3 linked regions of the Homo sapiens genome follow. The protein of the gene in region 1 interacts with the protein of each later gene in a pairwise test. Each region holds a gene or a part of one and is shown on either strand. Other genes may lie near its edges.

What was found.
Region 2: the proteins of SLC13A4 (region 1) and CBLIF interact in binary tests that used the Homo sapiens proteins (3 or more experiments, as listed by UniProt).
Region 3: the proteins of SLC13A4 (region 1) and SLC35E4 interact in binary tests that used the Homo sapiens proteins (3 or more experiments, as listed by UniProt).

What each region holds. Positions count from the first base shown.
Region 1 is NC_000007.14:135,693,534-135,697,282, forward strand, and holds part of SLC13A4 (solute carrier family 13 member 4), read right to left. Parts: intron 1,955-3,749; coding exon 1,835-1,954; intron 706-1,834; coding exon 604-705; intron 1-603. UniProt on the Homo sapiens protein: Sodium:sulfate symporter that mediates sulfate reabsorption in the high endothelial venules (HEV).
Region 2 is NC_000011.10:59,843,691-59,847,439, reverse strand, and holds the start of CBLIF (cobalamin binding intrinsic factor precursor), read left to right. Parts: upstream 1-1,940; 5' UTR 1,941-1,986; coding exon 1,987-2,065; intron 2,066-3,384; coding exon 3,385-3,561; intron 3,562-3,749. UniProt on the Homo sapiens protein: Promotes absorption of the essential vitamin cobalamin (Cbl) in the ileum. After interaction with CUBN, the CBLIF-cobalamin complex is internalized via receptor-mediated endocytosis.
Region 3 is NC_000022.11:30,633,484-30,637,232, forward strand, and holds the start of SLC35E4 (solute carrier family 35 member E4), read left to right. Parts: upstream 1-2,297; 5' UTR 2,298-2,967; coding exon 2,968-3,586; intron 3,587-3,749. UniProt on the Homo sapiens protein: Putative transporter.

The sequences.
Region 1 (3,749 bases):
CTTAAAGCTTTAAATAAGACAGTGTCTACCTGGATTGTTTTATGCAAAGTTGTATGTGCCAATTGCCATAAAAGGAGAAATAGCACTAAATAGGAAGCTGGGTCCCTGTGGAAAAGCTGATGGAAGTGGCTGAGGGTTGGTTAGTGATTTCTTGGACGCTCTCTCTCCAAGTCTGTCTTTGATACTGCCTTATACCCTAAATATAGCACAGAGTCTCCCATCTCCCTGGGAGTGATAACCGCACCACTGTGGTGGCGCGTCTGAGCAATGAGAGGTGGCCTGGCTTTGGAAGGAATTCACATTTTCCAAGAGGGTGGCTGTGCTGTCTTTCCCTTCTTCTGCCTCTGTCTGCTCCATGGTCAGCACTCCACCCCATGCCATGGCTATACCCTGGACTCTGAATAGAGCAAAGGGGAAGGGTGGCCACCTGAAATCTGGGCCAGCTTGGCTTTGGCACTAAATAGCATCTTCTAAAGGCCTGATTCAGAGTTGTGGAAAATTCTCCCAGTGTCAGGGATTGTCAGGAACAGGGCTGCTCCTGTGCTCACTTTACCTGCTGTGTTTCTGCTGGAGAAGGAGGGAAGAGGAATGGCTGATTTTTACCTAATGTCTCCCAGTTTTTCATATTCTTCTTGGATCCTCTTCTCTGACAACTGTTCCCTTTTGGTCTTCTTCTTCTTGCTCAGAGAGCAGGTCTCTTTAAAACTGAGAAGGGAGAATGAGCAAATGATTAAAGAAAACACACTTCTGAGGCCCAGAGATCAAATATTAGGTAAATACTAAACCGCTTGCCTGCTGTGGTCACTTTTCTCCTCTTTCACATGCTCTATCCCTCTATCCCCCACCTATTCATATGGCTTTTATCTGCCAAGTTATCCGGCCTCTCATCAACCTTCTCCCCTAGCCTACTGGGGATATCCATCTGGGTCTGTCTCTGGTGTATTGGTGTGAAGTGATGTCTCAGGGACTTGTGCAAGTGTATTCGTGTGGGGTCATTTCTACCTACTTGTCTTTTACGTAAGTAAAATAATCAGTGTAATGTGGTATATGTGTCTAGATGTATAAACTAAAACTTTTATTCCACTATGTGTCTAGATGTATAACTAACATTTTTACTCCAGAGAAGCTTTGTCTCTAGCCAAACAAACACACAAACATCTGCGTATATGGAACACACAGTGTTAGTTTTATGTTAGCAATACTGGAGTTAAGAAGTATATAGTTATCATTGGTTTGACAACAGTCTGAGTAAAAAGAAAAGTCAGAGAACATTTCTTGACCAATGGGAGCATTGGGTTACATGGACTAATAGCAAAACATTATATTATCTTCCCTTATGTGTTTGAAACTGATCAAATTTGGAGTAGACTGACTTGTTATTTTGAGGCATATGAGCATATTTTATTCAGGCTACTAAGTATAAATCACCCATGCCTATAAAGTTAAACCTAATGCAAATTCTACTTAGAGTCATATTTTTTATTTCCTATTTCTTGGAGTAATTGGAAGTGCTCTGTATGCTTTGAGAGCAATAAAACGACATTAAATACTCTTCACCTCAGACTTTGTATAAACTGGACAGGCTCTCTAACCATTTAGTTGGAATTAAGAACATTTCGTTGTAGAGCTGAGAGTGAAGTGCAGAGTTCACAAATGTTTAGAATGTCTAGAAGAGACAGCACCTGACTCTCAGACCAGACCACTGCATTCTCCTTGGGCATCCTCTGTGGTTACTTGGCAGTCCCCCTTGCACAGAGCCATCCAGGGCCCATGCCATGGCCTTTGGATCAACAGGGGGGCTTCAGTGCTTTGCTGAAAGGGCCCTGGAACTCACTTGCAGCCCAGGAACAGCCAGTGCATCCAGAACCAGCTGACCACCAGCATGATGAGGGATATGGGGAAGCTGAAGAGGAACCAGGTGCCAAAGTTCACCACCTCTGCGGCTGGATACTGGCTGGAGGGTAAAGAACCAGGTCAGCAATTAGAAAGGGAGGGTTTCCATATGGTATTTTGGGGTAGTATGCCAAATGCTCCCTAAAACATACAGCTGGGCTAAGTGGGGAGATAATGATAACGATATGGTAAAACGTTGCCTAGGACTCATTTAGTTGACAGTTGCAATTGTACAGAGCCCAGACAAGAATCATGAAACTAGCTAAAAAAAGGAATCAAAACAACTAAAATTAATATCATTAAAGTGTATATACTTTGCACTCAAGAGAATGACTCAGGACGTGTTTGCCCTTAAAGATTCTGCTAAGTTTATTCATCTGGTTTTCAAGGCAACAGAAAATGGAACAGCTTGGTATACTTTGTTTCTAAAATCACCAAAGGAATGTAAGTTTTGATTGGGGGACACAATTCTGGAGAATCTGGAGCTTTAGGGCTTAATGAAGTTTTTAGATATTAACGGTGCCCATAAGAGAACCAGGACTTGGAATCTCCAAATCTTTATCAACATCCACTGGTCTCAGGGTAGAGGGGATTTGTATGGGGAACTGCTCATTCATCAGCAGGCAGAGCTGTGGCCCCTCAGCCCAAGTGCTGTTTCCTGGGGAGCCTGGATGGACCACGCGAGAGCTGTGGCTTTTGCCTAGACGAGGCTCAGGCCTAAATGACCTATGCTGTGTTTTCCTTGGGTCTCTGTTTTTGGGGCTGGGCGTAAAACTCCTCAAGTTGTGAGACATCCCTCTATCAGTGATCCCTTCTCCCAGATCTTTAACTTCCCTCTCATCTGGATCATCCCTACCAGCATCTAAATGTCTCCCATCTTGAAAACTCCGTCTTGACCCTGCTCTACTTTCCTTTTATTTTTTTATTTTTATTTTTTTTTGAGACGGAGTCTTGCTCTGTCGCTTAGGCTGGAGTGCAGTGGTATGATCTCAGCTCACTGCAACTTCCGCCTTCTGGGTTCAAGCAATTCTGCTGCCTCAGCCTCCCAAGTAGCTGGGATTACATACAGGAGCACACTACCATGCCCAGCTAATTTTTGTATTTTTAGTAGAGACGGGGTTTCGCCATGTTGGCCAGGCTGGTTTTGAACTCCTGACCTCAGATGATCTGCCTGCCTTCGCCTCCCAAAATGCTGGGATTACGGGCATGAGCCACAGTGCCCGTCCCCTACTTTCCTTTTATTATCACCCCACATCTCTCCTTCCCTTCACAGCCAGCTCTCCATTTTCTCACCTCTACCTTAGTCCTCAACTCACCAGAATCTGGCTGCTTCTCCCACCTCTTGACCAAGGTCCTCTTGCCTACATCACCAGTAACCTCCACATCACCAAATCTAATGGATACGTTTTCATCCTTACTTTGCATCATCATTCATTGACATTAAATATTGTAGGCACTTCCTTTTTCTTGAAATACTTTCCTCCCTTGGGTAGAGTGGCACCAGATTTCCCTTCCCTCTCTGCTGTCTGATATTGTTTCCTTCTGTCCGTTAAATATGTGAGCTTAATATTTATGTCCTCTGTTCTCCTTACCCTGTATATTCTAGGTAATTTCCTCCACTCCCGTAGCTTCCCTTACCAGGAGGCAAAATGAATATGTGGCCCCTTTACCCAAAGGTTATTATGAATATCCAGGCAGGGACAGCAGAGCATTAAACCAAGCGTGACGCCTGTCTGGGCATGGTGGCCCTGTGTCCCTGTACAGGCGGCACGCCCATGACCCCAGCGCTGCAGGCCGCTCTCTTCAAATCTATGCCTTCAGCCTAAGCATTAATATTTGCCTTGACATTCACAGGT
Region 2 (3,749 bases), on another chromosome or scaffold:
AAGTGACTTTAAAACTTAGGGGCCTAAGACAACATTTATTATCCCACAGTTTCTGTGGGTCAGGAGTCCAGGGAGGGTTTACATGGGTCCTCTGGCTTAGGAGGGTCTCTCCCAGGGCTGCAATCAAGATGTCAGCTGGGGCTGCCTTCATCTCAAAGCTCACTGGGGAAGGGTTCTTTTCTCCCTGAATATCGGCTGGAGGCTACTCTCAGGGGCCATATGTGGGCTTCTCCATAAGGCAGCTCACACTTAGCAGCTGCCTTCATGAGAGCAGGAAGGGCAAGAGAGAGAAGGCAAGCAAGAGGGAAATCGGTCTTTTGCAACCACATCCCATCACCTTTGCTGCATTATATTCATTATAATAGAATGTGGCCCCAGGCCAGCCCACACTCTAGGGAAGAGGACTACACAAGGCATGAATACCGGGAGGTGAAAACACAGGGCCATGTTAGAAGTTGTCCAGCACACCCCAGTATGTACCCTGTGCTCTCATCTCACAAAACTCACCCATGTTTCCCAAGGGGGAAAAAATGCTTTATTACCCATGTCTTACATTTGCTCATTAATTCACTCATTCAAAAAGTATTTTATTTCTACTGTGAGCTAGGTAGTGTTGTAAGGGCTAAGGATAGAGCAGTGAGCCAAAGAGACAAAGCCCCTCCCTCGTGGAGCAGACATTCTAGTAGGGAGATAAACAAACGATAAACAACCACACACTTAGTGCGACAGAGGGCAATGAGTTATAGCAGGCGAGGGGCATGAGGGGTGTCAGTGGAGGTGAGGATGTAGGATCTTATGTAGGGTGGCCTGGGAAGGCGTCTCTAAAAGCTTACCTCTGAGCAGAGACATGAAGGATGTGAGGAAGCCACCATGAGGCTATTTAAAAGAAGAGGGTCCTGGGCTGAGGGGGACATCATGTGCAAAGGTAGCTGATGTGTTCAAGGGGCACAAGAAGTTCTGTGTGATGGGAGCGGTGTGAGCAAAGGGGAAAACGCCTGGAGCTGAGGTCAGAAAGGAAACCAGGAGCCAGATCTTCTAAGGTCTTATAGGTCATGAAAAGGGCTTTGACTTTTATGCTAAGATGGGCGCCACTGGAGAATATCCCCTTAAAATGAGCTACTTTACATGCAGGAAAAAAACAAACAAAACTCCTTTCTTTATAATTTCAACATACCATTTTCAGTTCTCCCTTATAAAGAAGTATAATTTGCATTATAATGTAGCTACACATCTGAAATATGTATTCTTAATGGATCTCACATTTTCTAATTACTTACTTTAAAAGATAATATCTGAAAGCTTTGGGTGTTTGAGATGGCTTTTATCTCCAGATAAGGAAAGAGAAATCAAACAAAACCATTTCTGGGAAACCGAGGTCCATTTCTTGCCTAAAGTCAAACAACTTCAAAGAGTCTAGGCTAGAATCCAGGTCCAGGTAGACATCATTAATTTCACAAAGCCAGATGTCACCTGGCAGATCCCTGCCTGAGAGCCTAAAAGGACATGTTGTAAAGCAGGTGTCTAGGATCATAAAATGAGCTGATGCCTATGAATGGCCTAAATCCCAGTGAAGTAGTTACTAAAAAGCAGCCTGGTAACTGATTGGATACAATAAGGGCTAGAAGAGGTCTTGTTGATACTAGCACATTATCCAAACTTCCTGATGTCTGACCCAGGCCTTTGGTAAAGGACATTTTCTCAACATTGCCTTCACTGCATACCCAGCCCCAGGTTTCTCATATGACTGTGCAACCTAGAAGTCACCTTCAGACACCTTGGAGGGTCTATAGTCGGTAAACTTAGATAAGCAAATGAAAATTTACTTACTTGTATCAGGAAAGGAGAGGTCAGCACAGGGGCAGTTAGGAGAGGCTGGGTTGGGGACAGATTATTTAACAAAGGGAAGCACATATAAGAGAAGGTAAAGAAATATTCCACTTGCAAATCGCGGTACCTGTGGATGAGAGACATAGACGAGAGAGTGAGATGGCCTGGTTTGCCCTCTACCTCCTGAGCCTTCTCTGGGCTACAGCTGGGACTAGTACCCAGACCCAGAGTTCATGCTGTGAGTATGATGTTTTTCCAAGGAGGTCAGGGAAGCAGTTGCCCTGGGGAAGGGGCTGTGACCTCTGACACTGAGTGGTTGAAAATAGCAATCACTATAGGAATTCCAAAATGGGTAAGTCTGAGTGTGATTGTGTGCTGTTCATCCTTCCTGACTTAATAGCATAAGTTCTTTGAGAGACAAGTCTATATGTTTTTTATTAAGAGAGATGGGGCCAGGTGCAGTGGCTCACACCTGTAATCCCAGCACTTTGGGAGACTGAAGCAGGAGGATTGCTTGAGCCCAAGAGTTCAAGACCAGCCTGGGCAACATGGTGAGACTCCATCTCTACAAAAAAAATAAATAAATAAAAATAAAAAATTAGCTGGGCGCAGTGGCATGCACCTGTGGTCCCAGCTACTCAGAAAGCTGAGGTAGGAGAATCGCTTGAGCCCAGGAGGTCGAGGCTGCAGTGAGCTATAATCACACCACTGCACTCCAGCCTAGATGACACAGCAGCACCCTGTCTCAAAAAATCAATAAATAAAAATAATAGAGATGGAAGTACTACTGCAGGAATAATGGTTGATGGTACAAAGACAGACACTCAGTGGCTATTGTGACCAGACACCACTACATACTAGTGAGAGATTTTGGTACTCACTGAGGATAAATTATATCCCAAATCTTTAATACTCTTCATGAAAGAGTAAGGAAAAAAATGAATGCAAGGAAATCAGTGATTTCCAGGAAAGTGATAGAAACTATGAGAAATGTCATGAGCCATATTGCTTGAAGTTACTAAATTTAAAAATCACTTTCTTAAGGATATGGATTATTTGAGAAGATGTAGAAACTAATTGTCCTCAAAAGTAAAATCTCACCATTTTCTCCATTTCTCTTTAGTGACTTAGGACACTAATGCTAATCAAGTGTTCTCCTAAAAGGCATCAAAGATGGCCAGGCGAGGTGGCTCACGCCTGTAATCCCAGCACTTTGGGAGGCCAAGAAGGGTGGATTACCTGAGGTCAGAAATTCGAGACTACCCTGGCCAACATGGTGAAACCCCATCTCTACTAAAAATACAAAAATTAGCCTGGCGTGGTGGTGCACACCTGTAATCCCAGCTACTCAGGAAGCTGAGGCAGGAGAATCACTTGAACCTGGGAGGCAGAGTTTGCAGTGAGCCGAGATCGTGCCATTGCACTCTAGCCTGGGCAACAAGAGTAACACTGTCTCAAAAAAAAAAGAAAGAAAGAAAAAGCATCAAAGACACGGGGATAATGTTTTTGAGAAGGAATGAGGGTTAGAAGGTGAGTAAATGGCTTTCCTCTTCTCAGCCGTTCCCTCAGCACAGGAGCCCTTGGTCAATGGAATACAAGTACTCATGGAGAACTCGGTGACTTCATCAGCCTACCCAAACCCCAGCATCCTGATTGCCATGAATCTGGCCGGAGCCTACAACTTGAAGGCCCAGAAGCTCCTGACTTACCAGCTCATGTCCAGCGACAACAACGGTGAGACATCTGAGCCGCTCGCACTCTCCCTGAATCTCACACATCACATACCACCTCCAGATTCCAACTCAGCGTCCTTCCCACCCCAATGCTGCCTCTGACTGTAAATAAACTACCCAAACACCTTTCCTTACATACCTGGAAGGTACCTGGAAAGAAACATGTGTGAAGTCAGAGCATTCATGGAG
Region 3 (3,749 bases), on another chromosome or scaffold:
CGGGTTCAAGCGATTCCCCTGCCTCAGCCACCTGAGTAGCTGGGACTACAGGCGCCCACCGCCACACCCAGCTAATTTTTGTATTTTTAGTAGAGACGGGGTTTCACCATGTTGGCCAGGCTGTCTCCAACTCCTGACCTTAAGTGATCCGCCAGCCTCGGCCTCCTAAAGTGCTGGGATTACAGGCGTGAACCTCTTCGGCCAGCCTCCCAGCTTATTTTTGTATTTTCTGTAGACACGAGGCTTTGCCCTGTTGCCCAAGCTGGTCTCCAACTCCTGAGCTCAAGTGATCCTCATGCCTCAGCCTCCCAACGTGCTGGGACTACAGGCATGAGCCACTGTACCCAGACTATTGTTTTTTACTAAAGGAGACTTACTAGAAAACTGACAAAATCCAGGCTGGGCGTGGTGGTTTACGCCTGTAATCTCAGCACTTTGGGAGGCCAGGGTGGGTGGATCACCTGAGGTCAAGAGTTTGAGACCAACCTGACCAACATGGTGAAACCCTGTCTCTACTAAAAATACAAAAATTAGCCGGGTTTGGTGGCGCACGCCTGTAATCCCAGCTACTCGGGAGGCTGAGGTAGGAGAACCACCTGAACCTGGGAGGCAGAGGTTGCAGTGAGCTGAGATCGTGCCATTGCACTCCAGCCTGGGCAACAAGAGCGAAACTCGGTCTTGGAAAACAAACAAACAAAAAAACCTGACAAAATATCAAAGATAATTATAACCCTTAGGGGTCCCAGATTTCTCTTCCTCAGGAAATGGCAAGGGGGTGCGGGAGAGGGGCCATCCGCTTTGGCTGGCTTAGTTTCCTTTCCACAACCCTTTCTGGAGAAACACTAAATGCCACCATTTTTTGGTCCTTGGCCTGGAAATTTCCCTATCTGCACCCCCTGCGCTGTAGCTTAGGCTATTCAGCAGAGATCTGCAGGCTCCAGCGGGCGTCGGACTTACAGAGGCAAATGTGACCATGTAAATTCCCAGGCCCACCCGTGACAGAGAGCCTCTGATTCAGCAGGCCTCCTTTGAGGCTGGGGATTTTAAACCCGCGTCCTGTGATTGGGATGGGGATTGAGGGCTATATTCAGCGCCTGGCCACCAGAGGGCGCAGCGGGCTGGGTTCAGCGGTACCCCTTTGAGATCTTGTGTCTCAAGACAGGTTGCTGTCATCAAGGATTTGCTGGTTAGACAACAGGCAAGGGGTGAGCTGGGTCCTCTTGGGCAGGAGCCTAGTAGGAAGACCGACAACAGGAAAGAGGCTCACATCTGATACTGGGCACATGGCTGGGCCTTGGTCCTCGTGCTCCCGGACTTCAGAGCTCAGAGGGGCCAGGGCCTGGCCTAGCCTGGAATCTGGATGGACCTCTTCTGCCCTGGGGCGCGCCGTTTACCCAATCCTGACCTCAGAGAGCGTCTGTCGTTCTGGTGGGAAAACCGAGACCCAGACAGGAACAAGGGCTCAGTGGCAACCGCTCTGCCTCCCAGCCCAGGGCTCTGTCTTGCCGGGGCTGGGGCACAGGGTGGACCCCAGGAAGTTCTGCTATGAGTCAGCTTCGAGTGCTCAGGGGACCGGACAGAGGCTGCTGGCCGGGGAAGGATGCCGGCCGGCGGTACCTACTTCCGCAGCTGTGGGTATCCCTGCCTGGTGATTCAGCTTCCCTCTGAGGGTCCCCAGGGGGCGCCGCCCTGGACTGGGAGGCTGGGGAGGATGCTGGGGCTACGGAGGGGCGATGGAGGTGCCTTAAGGGACCCCGTAATCCAGCTCTGCTGGATGCTGAGGTCCCACGAGATAATTGTGGCCAGAGATCAGGTGGGCGTAAGACTGGTCCTAGGATGGGGGCTGTGGGCCCCTCCTCACTACCCTGCTTCTTGAAGATAGCCTGGGCGGCTGTGCGGGATACCCCAGTGTCTCCAGCAATGCGCGTTCATCTCCATGGAGGGCTCGCCTTGGCGCTGGGTGGGGAGCGACTTGGTCCCCCCTGGCGGCGAAGAGAGGCTGACCACGCCAGCTCGTGGGGGGGTCTACTGGGCAGATGCGCAGGCCCCGGGCGGAGGAGGGCTGATGGGGGAAATGCCAGGCCGATGGGGGAGGGGCTGTGAGCGGGAGGCGTTGGGGCGGGGCAAGACCGCCCTCCCGGTCCGGGGGCGGGGCTTGGCCTGGGGCGGGGCTTGGCTGGGGTGCTCAGCCCAATTTTCCGTGTAGGGAGCGGGCGGCGGCGGGGGAGGCAGAGGCGGAGGCGGAGTCAAGAGCGCACCGCCGCGCCCGCCGTGCCGGGCCTGAGCTGGAGCCGGGCGTGAGTCGCAGCAGGAGCCGCAGCCGGAGTCACAGCCGCAGCCAGAGCCGCAGCCAAAGCCTCAGAGAGCAGGAGTTGGAGCGCAGGCCCTGCTGGATCCGCGCCTAGCTCGCCGCCAGGCACCGGCCGGAGGACGGGCCGTGGTGTCAGCTCACTGCCCGGGCGCTGTGGGAGGCAGCGAGCCCGCGACCCCCCGGGCCGGGCACCGCCAGGCGCGGAGCCCAGATCGCCCCCCTGCCAGGCCTGGTCACGGCCAGAGCACGCAGGAGTTCCCAGGGTCTGGATCTGCGCGCACCCTAATGACCTGGGGACTGAAGAGAAAAAAGGAACGAGGATTTCATCTAAAAGCATAACGTGGGCACTAGGCGAGGAGGAAAGTGGAGACCACCTGGCACGGGGCAGAGGTGCCTGGAGCCCACGCTTGAGCATCGGAGACCCTGGCATCCTAGCAGCCGCGACCTTGGCTCTGCCCTGTCTGAGCTGGAAACACAGCTTAGCTTCTAGACATCGCTGGCACAGGCCTGGCACAAGTAAGCAGTGTCCTCACCTGTCTGAAACGGGACACGGGGTCGGAGGAACCAGGATCTAGCCTGGCCCCAAGCGGAACTCTCTGGTGGCCCAGAGGTCGTCACTGGGGAGCCCGCCTCCTGCCCTAGCCTCACTGGTGCGGATGTGCCGCTGCCCGCCGGAGCACCATGATGGCAGGATGACCTCAGCCGAAGTAGGAGCAGCAGCTGGTGGTGCTCAGGCGGCTGGGCCCCCCGAGTGGCCCCCTGGCAGCCCTCAGGCCCTCCGGCAGCCTGGCCGGGCCCGAGTGGCCATGGCAGCACTGGTGTGGCTGCTGGCGGGAGCCAGCATGTCAAGCCTCAACAAGTGGATCTTCACAGTGCACGGCTTTGGGCGGCCCCTGCTGCTGTCGGCCCTGCACATGCTGGTGGCAGCCCTGGCATGCCACCGGGGGGCACGGCGCCCCATGCCAGGCGGCACTCGCTGCCGAGTCCTACTGCTCAGTCTCACCTTTGGCACGTCCATGGCCTGCGGCAACGTGGGCCTAAGGGCTGTGCCCCTGGACCTGGCACAACTGGTTACTACCACCACACCTCTGTTCACCCTGGCCCTGTCGGCGCTGCTGCTGGGCCGCCGCCACCACCCACTTCAGTTGGCCGCCATGGGTCCGCTCTGCCTGGGGGCCGCCTGCAGCCTGGCTGGAGAGTTCCGGACACCCCCTACCGGCTGTGGCTTCCTGCTCGCAGCCACCTGCCTCCGCGGACTCAAGTCGGTTCAGCAAAGTAAGTGCCTGGGTGGCCAATTGAGAAGGTGGGGGTCCGGGTGGGTGCATGGCCTGGATGGCCCTGTGAGGGGTATGGCTGTTGTCCCATTTTACAAATGAGGAAACTGAGGTTCATGGCTGTGGAGGAAGCAGAACTGAGGCTCAGAGAGGGCCAACAGTTC